Linked DNA regions of Homo sapiens. The protein of the gene in region 4 interacts with the protein of the main gene of each other region in a pairwise test. Each region holds a gene or a part of one and is shown on either strand. Other genes may lie near its edges.

Region 1 (4,060 bases), on a different chromosome or scaffold from region 4:
AGCACCTAGAAGAAAGAAGATACTCAATGCATTCATTCATGACTGAATGAATGAAGAGTCCCTACCCTGTCCCTTCCTCTCCATACTGCGTCCATCCAATAGCTATCATTAAACTACTAAAGAGGACTTTTCGGAGGGTAGGGAGCCTCGGCTGATCAGAAATTGAGCCACTGTCGCCCAGATTATTTAGGGTTTCCTAAATAATCTGCCTCACTGAATCACTGAATTCCCTACTAACAGGTACATACCCCACAGATGGACATCGCACAGGGCAAGGACTTTGTTCAGCTCTCAGCTGTGTCCTCAGCACCTAGAACAGTAATGAATACCCTAGCTTAACTTGGAGGTCAAGGAGCTATCAGTTTGCGAGGGTGGGGTAGGAATTGACAGTGAGACCTGAGGCCTGTGGGAGGGGACCCAAAGAGGGAGGGGATGCAATAGGGAGGGGGCCAGGGGTGACAAGGATTGAGGAAGGGAGAGAGGGGGGAAAAAAAGCAAGGGATGCCTTAGAACCACATTTCACAGCCAAGGGAACAGAGGCCCAGAAAGGGAAAGTAACCTGCTTAGGGTCACACAGCACCTTGCTCAGTGGAGAGCCAGGTTTTCCTTCCTGTGCACTCCTCCAAGCCCAGCCAGACCACCTGAAGTTCCCCAGGCATCTCTGCCTCTATTACTCCACGACTTGAACTTTCCGGGTGCCGGGCAGGTACCGGGTCTGGTCTGCTCCCTCTCCCTCTGGCCATCGCTGAGGTTGAGGTTTTTTGAATGTACAAGTATGGAGAAGGGCACTGCCTTCAGAAGCCTGAACGTCTCCCCTGAGAGGGAGGGGGTGCACAGGACTCAATTGTTTCAGCTTGAAAATGGGGGAGAGCGGGGAGAAGGGGAGATGGCTCTGCTTGGGGCAGAGCCCCTGCGGGGAAAGGGGCGCCTGAAAGGACGTGCGATTCGGAGTGGGCTAGCTTATGCAGAGAGCCTGGGGGTGGGAGGAAGCTCGCACTCTGAAGGACACGCTGATCCCCGTGGGGACTCCCGGCGCCCCGCAGCCCGGGCCGCCGAGGGAGGCAGTAGGACCCAGGGGCCGGGAGGCGCCGGCAGAGGGAGGGGCCGGGGGCCGGGGAGGTTTTGAGGGAGGTCTTTGGCTTTTTTTGGCGGAGCTGGGGCGCCCTCCGGAAGCGTTTCCAACTTTCCAGAAGTTTCTCGGGACGGGCAGGAGGGGGTGGGGACTGCCATATATAGATCCCGGGAGCAGGGGAGCGGGCTAAGAGTAGAATCGTGTCGCGGCTCGAGAGCGAGAGTCACGTCCCGGCGCTAGCCCAGCCCGACCCAGGTGAGGGGCGGGAGACGCCTGCGTGCGTGCGGCCCGGGGGAGCGCCGAGCAATCTGGGGGTGCGCGAGGGAGTAAGAGGGGCGAGGGGACCCTGCGAAGCGTTGGGTGCCGAGCCAGAGCCTACAAATTGGAGTCCTCGGCACTTTGGGGGCCGCTGGAGGGTTTGGAATCGAGAGCCCAGGGCTAGCCAGTGATGGTGCCAGCTGAGGGCTAGGGCGGAGATCGGAGCCGGGTTGGGAGTCCGTGCACTCGGAGGACTGGGAAAAAGTGCAGGGACCCCTAAAAGGTGGTGGTGGCAGATACGAGACTAGGTGCTGTGTAAAGGGGGCTGGGGGCAGAGAGCAGAGCCTCTGCGGAAAGAAACAGAGGAGGAAGGAGATGGGTCTGGTGCCTCTTCCCGCAAGGGTAGGGAGGATAGGCCGGCCTCGCAGTTCCAGGTCACTTCCGTTCTGGGGTTGAGGCTCAGGGGCAGCGGTGATTGGTGGCCCAGCCTCCTCACAGGCTTGCTGAGGGAATTTGAGCTTCCGGTGGTGGGAAAGGAGGTGAAATCGTCTCGACTCCTGGGGTCCGTGTGCTCTGGTAGAAGTGGGCGACAGTGGCTCAATTTCTGATCAGCAGCTTGCAGCCTAGATGATGGCAGCCAAAGGAAAGACTTGGCCAGCGAGGCTCCCTACCACTCCGAAAAAAGAGAGTGGGGGTCAGCAGGGTCTGCTCTGCTCTGGGGATTAAGGGGCTGACTAGAAGGATTTGAGTCTTTCCTTCTGTCCACTGCCACAGGGTTCTTGGAGTAACTGCAGGGTTTAAACTGCAGGGTCTAACTTCCAGAGGCTGGGGTTCCCTGCCCCCCAGCTTAGAGACATTCCTGAGGTGGCTGAAGAGCAGGAAGGAGAATGAATGCACTTCCAGACTGGCCCAGAGTCTCAGCCCCTCCTCTTCCTTGTTTCCCGCTGGTCCCTCTGGGCTGTACGGCCCGGATGGAGGCCTGAGGAAAATGAGGGGGCTTTGGTTCTCCGGAATTCCGGCCGGGGCCACACCCTCCTGTCTTCAGATGGTTCATGTACCCATCCCCCCTTCCCGTCCTCTCCTTTGTCTCCTCTGTCACCGGGACTCCCAGCAGAGATTTTTTTTTTGTACTGGCTGTGTAACAGGACACCGCATGCAGCCCTCAGGAGGGGCTCTGTGCTTCTGTGAGGAAGGACCCCTGTGCTGGGAAGGCAGACCCCTGTTTATCCCGAGGGACCTGGGGTGACCCCCTGCCCTGGCCTTGTTTCTCCCATTTTACAGTGAGGTGGTCGATCTCCAAGGTCCCTGTAGATTGGGGACTGGTTGTGCCCTCTGCGCCAGGGGCCTCCTCACCATCTCTCCTTTGCCGGCTCCCGCCCTCTTCACTCTTCTGTTTTCTTTCAGAATGAAAAAGGCAGGCATTGACCTCCCTCTGAGGCAGTTTCCAGGTACTTTAGACCTCTCAAGTGTTTGGGACCCTCTGGTGGGGTCCCATCATCTCCTCCCCTTCCCTTCCAGACCCTGCTCAGTCCAGCTAGCTGTGGGCACAGCCCTGGCTAGGTGATCTTGTATTTTCTTTGTGGGACTGTAACTCAGCTAACCTTGGCCTGAGGGCTGGCATTTCTCTGTGGCAAGATGGGCTGGGCTGTGGGAGGCTGGCCTGCTTGCAGTAACTTGCCTTCCCCCATTCCTGCTGCTGGGTTCAGTGGGGCTGCCCTTCTCCCCAGTAGCGCATTTCCCTTCAGAGATTCATGTGCGGATGGGAAGGGAACTAAGGCCAAGAAGGCTCCTGGAGTCCCCTGGCAAATATGTGGCACCCCCTGGGACCTGAGTCAGGCCTGCTTCCCAGGCTGGAAGCCCCCCTCTGCCGGCCGGTGGAGATAGTTCAGCCTCCTGCCTGCCACGTCACCACCAGGAGCAGGCGCTAAGCTGCTGCGGGCCTAGCGGGCTGCCTGAGGAATCCCAAACCAGTTATTTGGAGCTTGCTTGAGAAGCCCCTCCCAGTCCTTTGAGGTTCTGGCTGGTGGGGGTGGGGGCTGTCAAGATGGTACCTGCCACGTGGCATGGCTGGGAGTGGGCTCTTCAGCTGCCTCCTCAGGGAAGGAAGGCTGTTGGCCTCTGCTGTGGTCTGAGCTCCAGCATCACTGGTCTGGATCAGAGGTGGCTTTTGAGTAGGGTGGCCATATGCCTATTGTCCTGGCATAATAATTAGTAGTGCCCATTTTACTCTTATAAGTGTCCTTGTTTGTGCAATAAATTATATGGTTGCTCTGCCTTTGAGGCTCCAGTTCTGGCAGGGAAGGAGCCAGAGCTGGGAGGGAGGTGTCTTGGGGTTTATTCTAGGCCCCAAGATATCCCCTTCATTTTAGGGTGAGACTCAGATCTCCCCGCTCCTTCCAGACATTTTTAGATCTCTGGGCCTTCCCTCCTCTCCCCACCTCCCTCCCCTTGGACCCTTTGCTTATCTTATACTGCACCTTCAAGGCTCCGAGGAGGGAGGCAGTCCCGGGAGATGGGGAGCCTGTCCAGGTTTTTGGGATGGCAGCAGTAGAATCTTCCCAGAAATACAGTGGTCCCCAGGCAGCCAGAGTCCTGAGGGTCTTCCACCAGGATTTCAAATGTTCGGTCTTCTTCAAGGATGACTACAAGTTGGGATCTACCAGAGCAGTGGGATCGCAGCCTCCACCAGGATTCCTTCTATCCTTCCCTTTGCCCTGTCATCTCTCCTGT
Region 2 (3,525 bases), on a different chromosome or scaffold from region 4:
TTCTTCATCTCGTCTCATAAATTAAAATTTCTTCTTCAAGACTCAACTCAATGATGTCTTCTCTTTCCAAAACAAAATGGGTCTACCCCAGGGTGCCAGTCAGTACAGCTCTGATGCTCTCTCTACATTCAATGGTATTTGTGTGTATAAAGGCCACAGCGGTGTGTTAAGACACCTCGTTCTGCAGTCACTCTGCCTGGGTTTCAATCTGGGCAAGTCCCTTAACAGCTCTAAACTTCAAAATCCTCACCAGTAAAAGGAAGATAACAACGATACCCATTTCAGGCAATTATTGAGAGGGTTAAAAGTGTCATGTGGGTAGAGTGCTTAGCAAAATTTCCAGCACCTAGTGAGTTCCTAATAAATAGAAATGTATTTATTTATTTTGAGACAGAGTCTTCCTCTGTCACCCAGGCTAAAGAGCAATGGCGCGACCTTGGCTCACTGCAACCTCTGTCTCCTGGGTTCAAGCGATTCTCCTGTCTCAGCCTCCCAAGCAACTGGGATTACAGGCACGCGCCACTGTGCCTGGCTAATTTTTTGTATTTTTAGTAAGGATGGGGTTTTACCATGTTGGCCAGCCTGGTCTCGAACTCCTAACTTCAAGTGATTTACCCACCTTGGCCTCCCAGAGTGTCAGGATTACAGGTGTGAGCCACCATGCCCGGTCCACAAATATTCTATTTCACTCAGTATTGCCATCCATTCTTACACATCTGTCTGCTCTTCTGGATAGTGAAATTGTAAAGACAGAGATGGTGTTTGGTTTATTCTTATATCTTGAACAATGAATGTGGCTCATAGTAGGCATTCAGTCAATGTTCATGGAATAAATTAAAGTCAGTCCTAGCCTGTGGCTGCATTCAATAAAGGGTAACAACAATCACAGTGACACTGACAAATACTGGCTACCTTTCCCCTCTAAGCATCATCTGTTGGGAATCTGATTGTGTCCTCTTCCCAATAGGATTATAAACCATTGAAAACACCAAGTACATCTTGACCATATTTTATTTTTTAAATTTATTTATTTATTTATTTATTTATTTATTTATTTTTAGACAGAGTCTCACTCTGTTGCCCAGGCTGGAGGGCAGTGGCACGATCTCAGCTCACTGCAACCTCTGCCTTCGGGGTTCAAGCAATTCTCCTGCCTCAGCCTCCCAAGTAGCTGGGATTACAGGTGCCTGCCACCATGCCCGGCTAATTTTTTGTATTTTTAATAGAGATGGGGTTTCGCCATGTTGGCCAGGCTGGTCTCAAACTCCTGACCTCAGGTGATCCACCTGCCTCAGCCTCCCAAAGTGTTGAGATTACAGATGTGAGCCACCTCGCGTGGCCTTAGTGGTGATTTTGGTGGACCCATCACCCGAGCAGTGTACACTGTACCCAGTGTGTAGTCTTTTATCCCTCGCTCCCTCCCACTCTTTCCCCTGAGTCCCCAAAGTCCACTGTATCATTCTTATGCCTTTGTTTCCTCATAGCTTAGCTCCCATTGAGCATATTTTATATTTTTTCCTTTCTTTTCTTCTCTTTTTTGAGACAGGGTCTCTGTTGCCCAGGCTGGAGTGCAGTGGTGGGATCACTGCTCACTGCCGCCTCAACCTCCTCGGCTCAGGTGATTCTCCCACCTCGGCCTCCCAAGTAGCTGGGACTACCAGTGCACACCACTAACTACCCCTGGCTAATTTTTAATTTTTTTTTTTGTAGAGATAGCATTTCACCGTGTTGCCCAGGCTGGTCTCCAACTCCTGGGCTCAAGAGATCCACCCACCTCAGCCTCCAGATTTTATATATTTCAAAGTGCCTAGTACTGTGCTGGGCACATACCTGTTCATTTATTACCTGGTAGGTCGCACTGGGTGTTCAGAGAACAAAAAAGAGCCCTCTCATGGGTCAACTACAGTCACTCAGCGGAGGGAGGCTTGTGTCTCTCAATCAGGCTGATACTGACAGACTTTCTCTTCAATCAGGCTGATACTGACAGACTTTCTCTTTCCCCGTAGGAGTGCCCAGTCCCAGGGTGACACTGGACAAGAAAGAGGCCATCCAAGGTGGGATCGTGAGGGTCAACTGTTCTGTCCCAGAGGAAAAGGCCCCAATACACTTCACAATTGAAAAACTTGAACTAAATGAAAAAATGGTCAAGCTGAAAAGAGAGAAGAATTCTCGAGACCAGAATTTTGTGATACTGGAATTCCCCGTTGAGGAACAGGACCGCGTTTTATCCTTCCGATGTCAAGCTAGGATCATTTCTGGGATCCATATGCAGACCTCAGAATCTACCAAGAGTGAACTGGTCACCGTGACGGGTCAGCATCCTGCTCCCTTCCTCATCGTTCTTTGTGGTTTCTGGTTTGGTATGGGGAGAAAGAACCCAGAACTGGGAAGGGGCTGCTGTTCTCAGGACTTAAGACCTGTTCTTAATCATTTTAAGCCAGTATTTTTCAAGCTTTTTTGACTGTTATACAGTTAAATTGCATACAATTTTTCAGACAAGAGTTTCACCAACAACACTTTACTCTTAATATATATGATGCTTTTTGTTTGTTTGGCTTGGTTTTTGGGGTTTTTTTTTTGAGACAGAGTCTCGCTCTGTCGCCCAAGCTGGAGTGCAGTGGTGCAATCTTGGCTCAGTGCAGCCTCTGCCTCCCGGGTTCAAGCAATTCTTATGCCTCAGCCTCTGGAGTAGCTGGGATTACAGGCATGCAGCACCACACCTGACTAATTTTTGTATCTTTAGTAGAGATGGGGTTTCGTCATGTTGGCCAGGCTGGTCTCAAACTCCTGATGTCAGGCGATCCACCCGCCTTGGCCTCCCATAGTGCTGGGATTACAGGCGTGAGCCACCACCCCAACCTTGTGTGTGTTTTTGAGACAGGGTCTTGCTCTGTTGCCTGAGCTGGAGTGCAGTGGCATGATTTCAGCTCACTGCAACCTCCGCCTCCCAGGTTCAAGCGATTCTCCTGCCTCAGCCTCCTGGGTAGCTGGGATTACAGGGGCATGCCACCATGCCTGGCTAAATTTGTATTTTTAGTATAGACAGGGTTTTACCATGTTGGCCAGGCTGGTCTCAAACTCCTAACCTCAGATGATCTACTCACCTCGGCCTCCTAAAGTGCTAGGATTACAGGCGTGAGCCACCGTGCCCAGCCTATTTCAGTCTTTAAACACTGGCCATGACACACTACACTGATGCATTATGTGATCTGTAGTTTGGAAGCCACTGCTTTAAGCCATCGAGGGTCAGACACCAGGAAGTTGGGTTTGGAGGGGATCGGGAGGAAAGAGGGGCCAGGTCCTCAGCCTTGGCCTCCTGTTGTTCAACGTAGATTTGCGTTGGACAAACAGCAAACAAATGAGGTGGCCTGGGAAATGCTCCCAGGAGAGAAGGAGGCAACAGCAGAGGGAAGCTGGGGAGTGTCCAGGACATACAGGGCTCTAGGACAGGTAGTCAGCCACTCCCAGGACCCGGTCTCATTTGCCAAGCCGGGAGAAGTCAGGGGAAGGCACACCCATGTAGAT
Region 3 (2,365 bases), on a different chromosome or scaffold from region 4:
ATAATTGAGAGTTGACTAACTTTGGAAGTCAGAATTCCCAGGAATTAGAGTAACTGCTCTGGAAAGTTAAAGTGTGAAGTTTTTTAGATAGTTTCATAAAAACAATTCTGGTTTCTTTTTGCTTGTGCTGACTTTCTTGGATTTTAATCTACCTCATCTTGTCTTTTTAGAGTTACTTCAACTTGTCACTTTAACATTGTGCTTGACTTTGGTTGTTTTCTAAGATGGAATTTTTCCTGTTCATTGACAGCTTGTTCTCTTGCCTTTTCATTCTGATCCTCATTTCATCTAACATCATCTCATATTGCTCCTCTGTCAAGAGAAATGTTTTAAAATAGTTTAAAGTCTTGTTTTATGGGAAGAAAGTGATCCTCCAATGCTATTTGTTTCTGAGGTCAGTAAGAGAAGGAGTTAAAACAAGGCAGTGGGGAAGGGAATGAATCCTGCACTGGAGGCAAAAGCTGACAAGGAAAGAGCCATTAATTAAGACAATTTCAAAGTCAACTGATTGTGATCATTAATGTCACAATAGATCAAAACCTAATTATCACAGCCTAGGTAAGAGCCATCAGTATTAATCGGAAAATCTAATAGGAAACTATTATCAAGAAATTAGGCCAAATTGAATGCAGTGAACTTTTTATCTTGGCATTCTCTATTTTTTTGTGATGTCCCCTGGCATTGGCAGGTGTGACCCTAACAGTCGATTCAAGGCCAAGTGGTCAGTTTGTCAGCCTTTTTTAAGGGATTTCTTTTTATTTTTAGGAATTCCAAACAGAGTTAACCTAAACTGTCATTGCCAAAAGATCAGTCTTAAACTTTCTTAGCACCTGTACCTGTTTAATGTGATCAGCTATCAGTGAGGAAAAAAAAAAAAATCTATTTAGGTCTTGGAATGGTTCCTGTACCTAGAGTATCCATATTGAACCTTTTTTTTTTTTTTTTTTTTTTTTTTTTGAGATGGAAACTTGCTCTTTTGCCCAGGCTGGAGTGCAGTGGCGTGATCTTGGCTCACTGCAACCTCCGCCTCCCGGGTTCAAGCAGTTCTCTGCCTCAGCCTCCTGAGCAGCTGGGATTATAGGCGCCTGCCACCATGCCCGGCTAATTTTTGTATTTTTAGTAGAGACAGGGTTCACCATCTTGGCCGTGCTGGTCTTGAACTCCTGACCTTGTGATCCGCCTGCCTCGGCCACTCAAAGTGCTGGGATTGCAGGCGTGAGCCAGCACCCGGCCACAGTATCTTTATTACAGCTCACTGCAGCCTCAATCTCCTGGGCTCAAATGATCCTCCTGCCTCAGCCTCCCAAGCAGCTGGGACTACAGGCGCACACCACGGTGTCTGGCTAATTTTATTATTTAAAAAATGTTTTGTAGAGACAGTCTCCCTGTGTTGCCCAGGCTGGTCTCCAACTCGTGAGCTCAAGTGATCCACGTGCCTCAGCCTCCCAAAGTGCTGGGATTACAAGCATAAGCCACCGCACCCGGCCCCTAGTGAACATTTTACTGTATGTGTTGATAAATCATCTTTTGAGTTTCTGTTGTATGTGGGGACTTCCTACACTGGCTGCTGTGAAGAGGTATGGAAGAAAGGAGAGGCTTTCTGCCTAGAAATTCTTTGAGAACACCTGAAAAGACAGTTTAATCATGTCACAACACTCTTAAGGCTCAAGTCAGTGTTCTGGTTTCCGGTAGCTTTAGGATTGGATTCTAAACGAGGGCTGGTGGTGAGTTTGGTGTTTGTCTCGTGTCACCCTCACCCCTCACCTCCTCAGTTTAGGATAAGAGACATAATGATTTCTACCAGAATCCAAAGTAAATCCAAAGGGGGAGAAAAGACATAACTGTTTTTTCTTCTACCTTTTTTTTGTTAAAGAGTTACATCTCTCACAGGAGGAAAGAATTCAAGAGTCTATATGATTAGTTACAGAGAATATTTTCATCCCCTCTCCCTGAATAGAAAAGCAGGGGTCACCATTTGTATCCTTACCCTTGAGGTGTTTTTGAAGATGCTGTAACTCTTGAAGTTGAGCTGAGGCAGAAAGGTTGGAAAAATGCAGCCCTCTGGGTATTGTGGGGAGGGATGTGATGTAGTAAGAGGGTGTTTTGTGGTGCTAGGATTCCCACGCCACCAACTTGCAGCTTTATAAGAGCGCTACCAAGAACCACCACTGGGGAAAAGGTTCTTATTCATTGTTTCTGTTGGAATGTGATCTTGCTTTCTGGATTTTAGGAATTCAGGTTACTCAGTATAAAACTCTGAGAAATCAGTGTGACTTAGTCCTTCACCTCCTAAGATAAAGTGAATATTTCTTTACAAAATAATTCATGTCCTTAATGTTAAAGATGTAATTTTATTTTCAAAACA
Region 4 (3,525 bases):
GGCAGGAAGAAAATGAGCAGGTCATCAATTATAGACTGGATAAAGAAAATGTGGTACAAATACACCATGGAATACTATACAGTCGTGAGAAAGAATGAGATCATGTCCTTTGCAGCAACATGGATGGAGCTGGAGGCTGTTATCCTAAGCAAACTGAAACAGGAAGAGAAAACCAAATGCTGCATGTTCTCACTTATAAGTTGTAGGTAAATATTGAGTACACATAGACACAAAGGGGGAAACAGCAGACACTGGGACCTACTTGAGGGTGGAGGGTAGAAGGAGGGAGAAGATCGAAAAACTACCTATTGGATACTAGGCTTGTTACTTGGGTGATGAAATAATCTGTACACAAAACCCCTATGACACATAATTTACTTATATGACAAACCTGTACACATACCCCTTAACCAAAAATAAAAGTTAAAAAAATAAAAGTTTAAAAAGAATTCAAAAGAATATTTCAGAAATAAAAACACTGGCATCAACTGATTGAAGAGACACAAAATATCATTGGCAAAATCTCTTTGCTTGATACAAAAATTTGTTCTCTCTTTCTTCTAAAGAGCTGGGCATGTGGCAAGAGTCCCTGGATCACTGTGTTGAGAAGGGTTGTTCTGTTATCTGGAACACCTCTTATAAACTGTTATCCGAGGGAGAAATAAACTTCTGTTTTATTAAGAAAAAGAAAGAAAGAAGAAAGGAAGAAAGAGAAAGAGAGAGAGAGAAAGGAAGGAAGGAAGGGAGGAAGGGAAGGAGGGAGGGAGGGAAAAGAAAAGAAAAAAAAGAAAAGAAAAGAAAAGAAAGGGGAAAGGAAGGGAAGGAAGAAAGAAAATAGTACCCCCCAAAAAAGGGAAAAAAAAGGCAGTTAATTTAATAAAACTTGTTTAAGTCTCAGTACAAAGTATGCAGAAGCATTATCATTGAACTTTTTGGTCTCTATACTGAACTCTTTTCCCATACAGAGTACTTCAAAACTTTCTCATCATGGCTTTCATTTATAGCTGCATTATTCTTCTTCTGGTCAAAGTAAATGACATGTTGGTTCTCTTCTTCATCCATTTACAGACAGTCATTTTTGGGTCTTACCTGATTGCACATGGGTTCTTCAGCGTCTATGCAATGTGTGTTGAAACAATTTTCATCTGCTTCTGTGAGTATTCAGTATGTGTGTTTTCCCCCTTCGGTGGATAACTGAAAGGTGAGATGGTGAAGGCCCATGTCCTTAGCTGGCTTGGGGATCTGCTGTTACCTGGCTGCAACCACAAAACGTGTTTATCTGGAAAGAGATATTGCTTAGTAGATGTTATTTAAACCATAATACCTGAGAAATAAGTCAGATGCAGAAAGACAAATACTTCATGATCTCACTTACATGTGGAATCTAAAAATGTCAAACTCATAGAAACAGAGTAGAGGGGTGATGACCAGAGATTGAGGGGTCAGTAAAATAGAGAGATGTTGGTCAAAGGGTACAAACTTTCAGTTATGCAGGATGAATAAATTATGGCACTCACATGTACAGCATGGTGACTATAGTTAATAATACTGTATTGTTAACTTGAAATTTGCTAAGCTCGTTAGTATTCTCACCACACACACACAAAGATAACTATGGGAGGTTATGGACATGTTCATTAGCTTGACTGTGGCAATCATTTTACTATATATGCATATATCAAAACATTACACACCTTAAATATTTACAGTTGTTATTTATTAATTATATCTCAATAAAGTTGGATAAAAAAATTATACCTCAACAAGGCTTAGAGAAAAATACAAAATTTAAAAAGAAATCTTAACAGCTAAGAGAATGGAGTTTGCAAAGCACAGAAGAGTCAACTACTGAAATGAAGCACAGGCTTCATGGCATACTGTTAGCATGAAATTATTTTGTTCATTTCTTGATTTTTTAAGTGAATAATAATGATTGGCTTCTGCCATGCTTTGTTAACAGAACTGAAGACGTAACAGGACTCTGGGAACTAGATATGTGGAATTCTTTGAGGAGAGGATTTATAAATTCTGATAAAGCCAAGATGACAAGGTGGTTTCAAGGACATATAGGGCCAATTCGCACTGTGCATCACAATGACAAATGGATAGGATTCGGAGAGGAGTGCCTCTAGGAAATAGTTGGATTAATTTTGATACATAGAGTTAAAATACTTCTTTAGAGCTTTCATCACTGACTTATACATGATGCTCCTATAGTTGCATATGCAACTCCCATACACAAAATAGGGTTTTCTTTTTTTGGCTAGGCACTGTGGCTCATACCTGTAATCTTAGTGCTTTCAGAGGCCAAGATGGGGAGAACTGCTTGAAGCCCAGCTTGAGACCAGCCTGGGCAACATAGTGAGACCCTATCTCTAGAAAATAAATAAATAAATAAATAAATAAATTAGCCAGGCACGGTAGCACACACCTGTAGTCCTAGCTACCCAGGAGGCTGAGGTGGGAGGATCACCTGGGCCCAGGAGTTCAAGGCTGCAGTGAGCTATGATAGTGCCACTGTATTCCAGCCTGAGTAACAGAGCAAGATCCTGGCTCTGAGAAAAAAAAAAAGATTTTTTTAATATTAGTACCTCACTTGAAAAGTCCTGGAGAACCTAGTACCTAGCAGAAGCTTAATCTGGCTTTCACCTTCCATGCCATTTCTTTGGCAAACCAACAGAAAGTAGAGTCAGTAAGTAAAAGAGCAGAACTTGTTAGCTGCACAACTACACATCCTGAGAGATTATTTCTCTAGCACATTGCCCTTAAGAGAAACAGAGAACATTTACTCTCTGACAGGCCATTACTGAACAATCCACTTGTATAAAATTTACAGTTTGCATTTTAGAATAACCCACAGCACCAACTTCACACTGGGATCAAGAGAGACGATAACTATAGGGAGATATATTCAAAGAAAACCTCCTGGAAAAAAGTCTGGCCTTGTTTTTTGTTTGTTTGTTTCTGAGCCTGTTAAAATCAATTCTCAATAACCGGACAAAGAATTCAAGAGAACTTTATGTACTAGTTAGCTCTTCCTCTGGTTGTAAATGGAAATGAAATGTTTAATGTTTTCCTAGTGCTTCAGTGGTCTAAGGAAAGCCATCTATCTACAAAATATCACATGAACAAACAGTTCAGGTATGGGATGGAAGAAGGAGCACGAGTAAGGTCAAGCACTAAAACATGGTGGACGCAGGGCTCTAGAATGCTCAAAGATCTCTCCTCTCATCTCCAACATTAACCATGGGAGCAATAACTGGAAATCACTATGTGACCTTCCCCATTCTTGTAGCTGAAAATACTTATGAAAATTTGTCTCAGGAAATGTCTAGAACCTACTAGCTTCCAGTCTTTGGAAGTTTTGGCTAATATGTGGATTTTAAGTTTGGCAGTTGATTTTGAATTTTGACAGTAAGAAATGTTTTCCACCATCTTTATTAATTGCCAACTCCTTGAAAGCCAGGTACATCAGCTTGATTCAGTGTATTGCATGTTGACATGAATCATTTCCTTTCAGAGACA
Region 5 (3,525 bases), on a different chromosome or scaffold from region 4:
AAATTACTAAAATAAAGGTGCGTGTGTGTGTATGCACATATATCTAAAGGGAGAGAGGGAGAAGGAAACTTACTAAATAAAATTTTTGCCACATGGGATTTAGTCTAATCAGTCTTGGTTTTGGAGTTGCTATCATCAGTAGTTCCATTTTGTGATTCTTTCTTTCTGCCTTCATGTGCCTTTGAAAACTGAAACTATGCCCAAATTAAAACAAGTTTTTCTGTCTTTTCACATGTTCACTTATTTCTTGAATGTGTTTTTAAACACAGACAAACTTCTTTTACATCATGTAGAATCTGAAGGTCGAGAAATTTGCAGTCATTTTGCTGGAGAGAGATGCTTGGCGGAGTCCCAGGCCACATTCCTAGGCCAAACTCTCGAAGGTATTCCTCTTATGCAACATTGGGAAAATACATCCAGCACCGACATGTTGGCTGATAATGTGTCTGAAGGCACAGACGATATGCTTATCATATGAAACATAAAGCCAGCAGATATTGCAGACATTCTGTTGAATGATAGAATCTGGATCATTTACATTTACTTAAATGTAAAATACTATGATTAAGTACAAAAAAATCAATTTAGGAGAGAATAGAGAGTTGCGGGCACGGTTTTAGGGGATGACTTATCAGCAGATTGTAGAAAGGAAGCTTGAATGTTTTAAATTAACTGCAAGTTCAGTATAAGCCAGTGGTGTGACAAGAGGCTGTTATCATAGCTACTGAAATTTTGGGCTGCACTGCTAGAAATATAATACTGAAATGGAGAAGCTAATAATTCTTCACTTTTTAAATAGACTGTATCTAGAATATTATCATCAGTTCAAGGAAATGAAATAAGTTGTTTTAGGTACATCATCGATAAATTAGTGTACATTCAAATCACTGTGACCAGGATGCATAGGGAATTTGAAAGCATTGCATGTGAGCAATGGTTGAGGGGACTTGGAATGCATGACTTAGGGACAAGAAAACTTAGGCTGGAATGGCAAGTGGTTTTTGAATGTTGGGTTGAGAAGAATTCTAAAACTGTGAAGGATTAGTAAAAATAACATTCAGATTGCTAATGCCTACTGTGGCTGGGAGATTAGAGTGTCAACATGTGTGATGTATTTTTGACATCCTTATTTTGAGGATGGGCTTCAAAGATTTGACGAACTGTCATAAGTGTAATTTGTGTTGCTTCAGACAGCAGTTCTAGAACCAATGATGTAAATTTAGATACTCTACATGGTAGTTAGAAAACTTTCCATTAATTTAATTTAGCAAATATTGAATGCTCACTGCATACAGAGCACTTTATTAGAGGAATATATAATAAAGAAAAAAGAGGTCTGGTGTGGTGGCTCATGCCTGTAATCCCAGCACTCTGGGAGGCTGAGGTGGGAGGATCACTTGAGCCCAGGAGATCATTACGAGTCTGGACAACATAGCAAGACCCCATCTTTACAAAAGACAAAAAAAATTATCCAAGCCTGGTGACAGGCACTTGTAGTCCCAGCTACTTGGGAGGCTGAGGCAGTAGGATCGTTTGAGCCCAGGAGGTTGGGGCTGCAGTGAGCCGTGATTGTCCCACTGCTCTTCAGCCTGGGTGACAGAGTGAGACCCCGTTGGAGGGAAGGAAGGGAAGGAAGGAAGAAAGGTAGGAAGGCTGAAATGAAACCCTTTTAGAAATGACACTAAAATGGGAGGTTGGAGTAAGGTATTTTCTGAAGTGCCTTTGTACTTGTTTTTTTCTAATGCATTGGCCATAAGTCTGCTCCTTATTTATAGTCCATAAACAATCCTAATGAGAACAGTTATATATTTCTGCCTTTGAATCATCTACTTGAAGTGTTTAGCATCATGAATTGAGTATCAGAAATCCCTCCCATTTCTTTGCAAAGCGCTGTATTTTACTTTTCCTTATTTGTATACAGATTCTCAAAATTGGCTATTTTTCCTTTGGGTTAGACAGAACAGAATGTCTGGAAAAAAAAGTTCTTATCAAATTCAGGTGCCCAAATTGCTTAAGAAATTAACTTTTGAGGTTATATTTTTTTAGGGTTCAGTAGCTAAACTAAGAAAACTTCTCACCGTTCACCTTCACTTTTGGAAACCACAAAATCTTCAGATATTACAGTTTTCCAAAGAGTTTCTCTTTTTAAATATAAACTAAAAGGAATTGACTCCTCCCCCAACTCCCTCAGGCCTCAGCATGGATAGAGTTACTTTTTTTCTTTAATAATTTATTTATAACTTATTTTGCTCTTCTGTAGAACAGCTGGAGATTAAGCAACATGGCCATGACATAAAATGCAAGTTAGACCATAAGATGAGCAGCCCACTCCAAGTATGAATGAGTACTTATTCTTTGTGATCTCTCATACTGCTTTTAGGTATTAATAGTGTCAGTCAGCAAAGCAAACAGTTTAATATTTACATCTCCTTTAGGATATCATATAGTTTATAGTTTGTATGTGTTCTTGCGTGTATGTTTTCTTCTGTTTCAAATTCTTTTTTCTTAAAGTAAGAATGTTATATGTAGCAAATGGTTCTTTCATTAATTCATTTGTTAATTCACCGTGCATTAATTGAGTGCCCAGTGAGTGTCAGGCACTGGGCTACTTGGATTTCTTTTCCCTGTATTGATCCATATATCTTCAGGTGCTCCTTGATATGGCTCTCCATTGACTCTCTCATATAAGGCTTTCATTACCTATTCACATACTCCCTCCCAAAGAGGACTGGTCCAAAAGTAAAATCTTGAGCAAGTTCTCTGAGTTATTTCAGAACTTCTTGCCCCCAAACTGTATTTTTAATTATTGACTGGTAGCATTTTGGAATAACTTACCTCTCTTTTTTAAAGATTGAAGTTCTTTATCCTCTCTGATTTTCAGGTGTCAGTTTGTGTACAAATTGAGACAATAAAAATGTTTGTTAGACATTTTCTTAAAGCATTTTGCTATGTGAGAATCTTTCATGAAGAACTCTTTTTAACAATGACTCTATAGCAGAAGCCACAGTAGAGGGAGAACTACTGAATCAAAGATGGTGTTTGAGTCTATGATTTTATGATGGATTTTTTTTTTTTTTACATACAAGGATATGCATGGGTCTTTTAGTATTCAGGAATCTGTTCTTCACTTGACAGTATTTATAAATTGTGTGTTTCCCCCTAAAAAAACTTAAATTGTGAGAATGCTTCCATTTACTAGAAGTTGGTTAATGATTATGCCAAATAAGGAAAATAAGACAGAAAAATCAGTTTAGTGAATACTATTTTGCCTTTAAATTTAGTAATTTAGTAACAGTATCTCTTTGGGGTTTACTAGAAACCACTTTTTAATCCAATAGGTCTCTTTCATTGTGAAGTCAGGAGGTGATTTTGCTTAAATGTGTAGTATAGGAATCTATATGTGGTGTTCAAGGATCATGTAAATATGCTGATATAATCGGAGCACAGTTTGGCATCATTAACTCAGAAATATTTAAACTCTTGCTATACAACATGGAAGCAAACTTGTGCATAGTTTGTGTGTGT

Evidence for each region.
Region 1: the proteins of SLC44A5 (region 4) and SERPINH1 interact in a two-hybrid assay, tested with the Homo sapiens proteins (one large-scale study listed by IntAct).
Region 2: the proteins of SLC44A5 (region 4) and PECAM1 interact in binary tests that used the Homo sapiens proteins (3 or more experiments, as listed by UniProt).
Region 3: the proteins of SLC44A5 (region 4) and CBX5 interact in binary tests that used the Homo sapiens proteins (3 or more experiments, as listed by UniProt).
Region 5: the proteins of SLC44A5 (region 4) and BDNF interact in binary tests that used the Homo sapiens proteins (3 or more experiments, as listed by UniProt).

What each region holds. Positions count from the first base shown.
Region 1 is NC_000011.10:75,560,993-75,565,052, forward strand, and holds the start of SERPINH1 (serpin H1 isoform 1 precursor), read left to right. Parts: upstream 1-1,260; 5' UTR 1,261-1,327; exon of another isoform or gene 1,328-1,386; intron 1,387-1,480; exon of another isoform or gene 1,481-2,024; intron 2,025-2,734; exon of another isoform or gene 2,735-2,778; intron 2,779-4,060.
Region 2 is NC_000017.11:64,373,838-64,377,362, reverse strand, and holds part of PECAM1 (platelet endothelial cell adhesion molecule precursor), read left to right. Parts: intron 1-2,006; coding exon 2,007-2,312; intron 2,313-3,525. UniProt on the Homo sapiens protein: Cell adhesion molecule which is required for leukocyte transendothelial migration (TEM) under most inflammatory conditions.
Region 3 is NC_000012.12:54,232,771-54,235,135, reverse strand, and holds part of CBX5 (chromobox protein homolog 5), read left to right. Parts: 3' UTR 1-2,365. UniProt on the Homo sapiens protein: Component of heterochromatin that recognizes and binds histone H3 tails methylated at 'Lys-9' (H3K9me), leading to epigenetic repression. In contrast, it is excluded from chromatin when 'Tyr-41' of histone H3 is phosphorylated (H3Y41ph).
Region 4 is NC_000001.11:75,209,096-75,212,620, reverse strand, and holds part of SLC44A5 (choline transporter-like protein 5), read left to right. Parts: exon of another isoform or gene 1-687; intron 688-1,068; coding exon 1,069-1,153; intron 1,154-3,525.
Region 5 is NC_000011.10:27,690,451-27,693,975, reverse strand, and holds part of BDNF (neurotrophic factor BDNF precursor form isoform a preproprotein), read left to right. Parts: intron 1-2,835; exon of another isoform or gene 2,836-2,870; intron 2,871-3,525. UniProt on the Homo sapiens protein: Important signaling molecule that activates signaling cascades downstream of NTRK2. During development, promotes the survival and differentiation of selected neuronal populations of the peripheral and central nervous systems.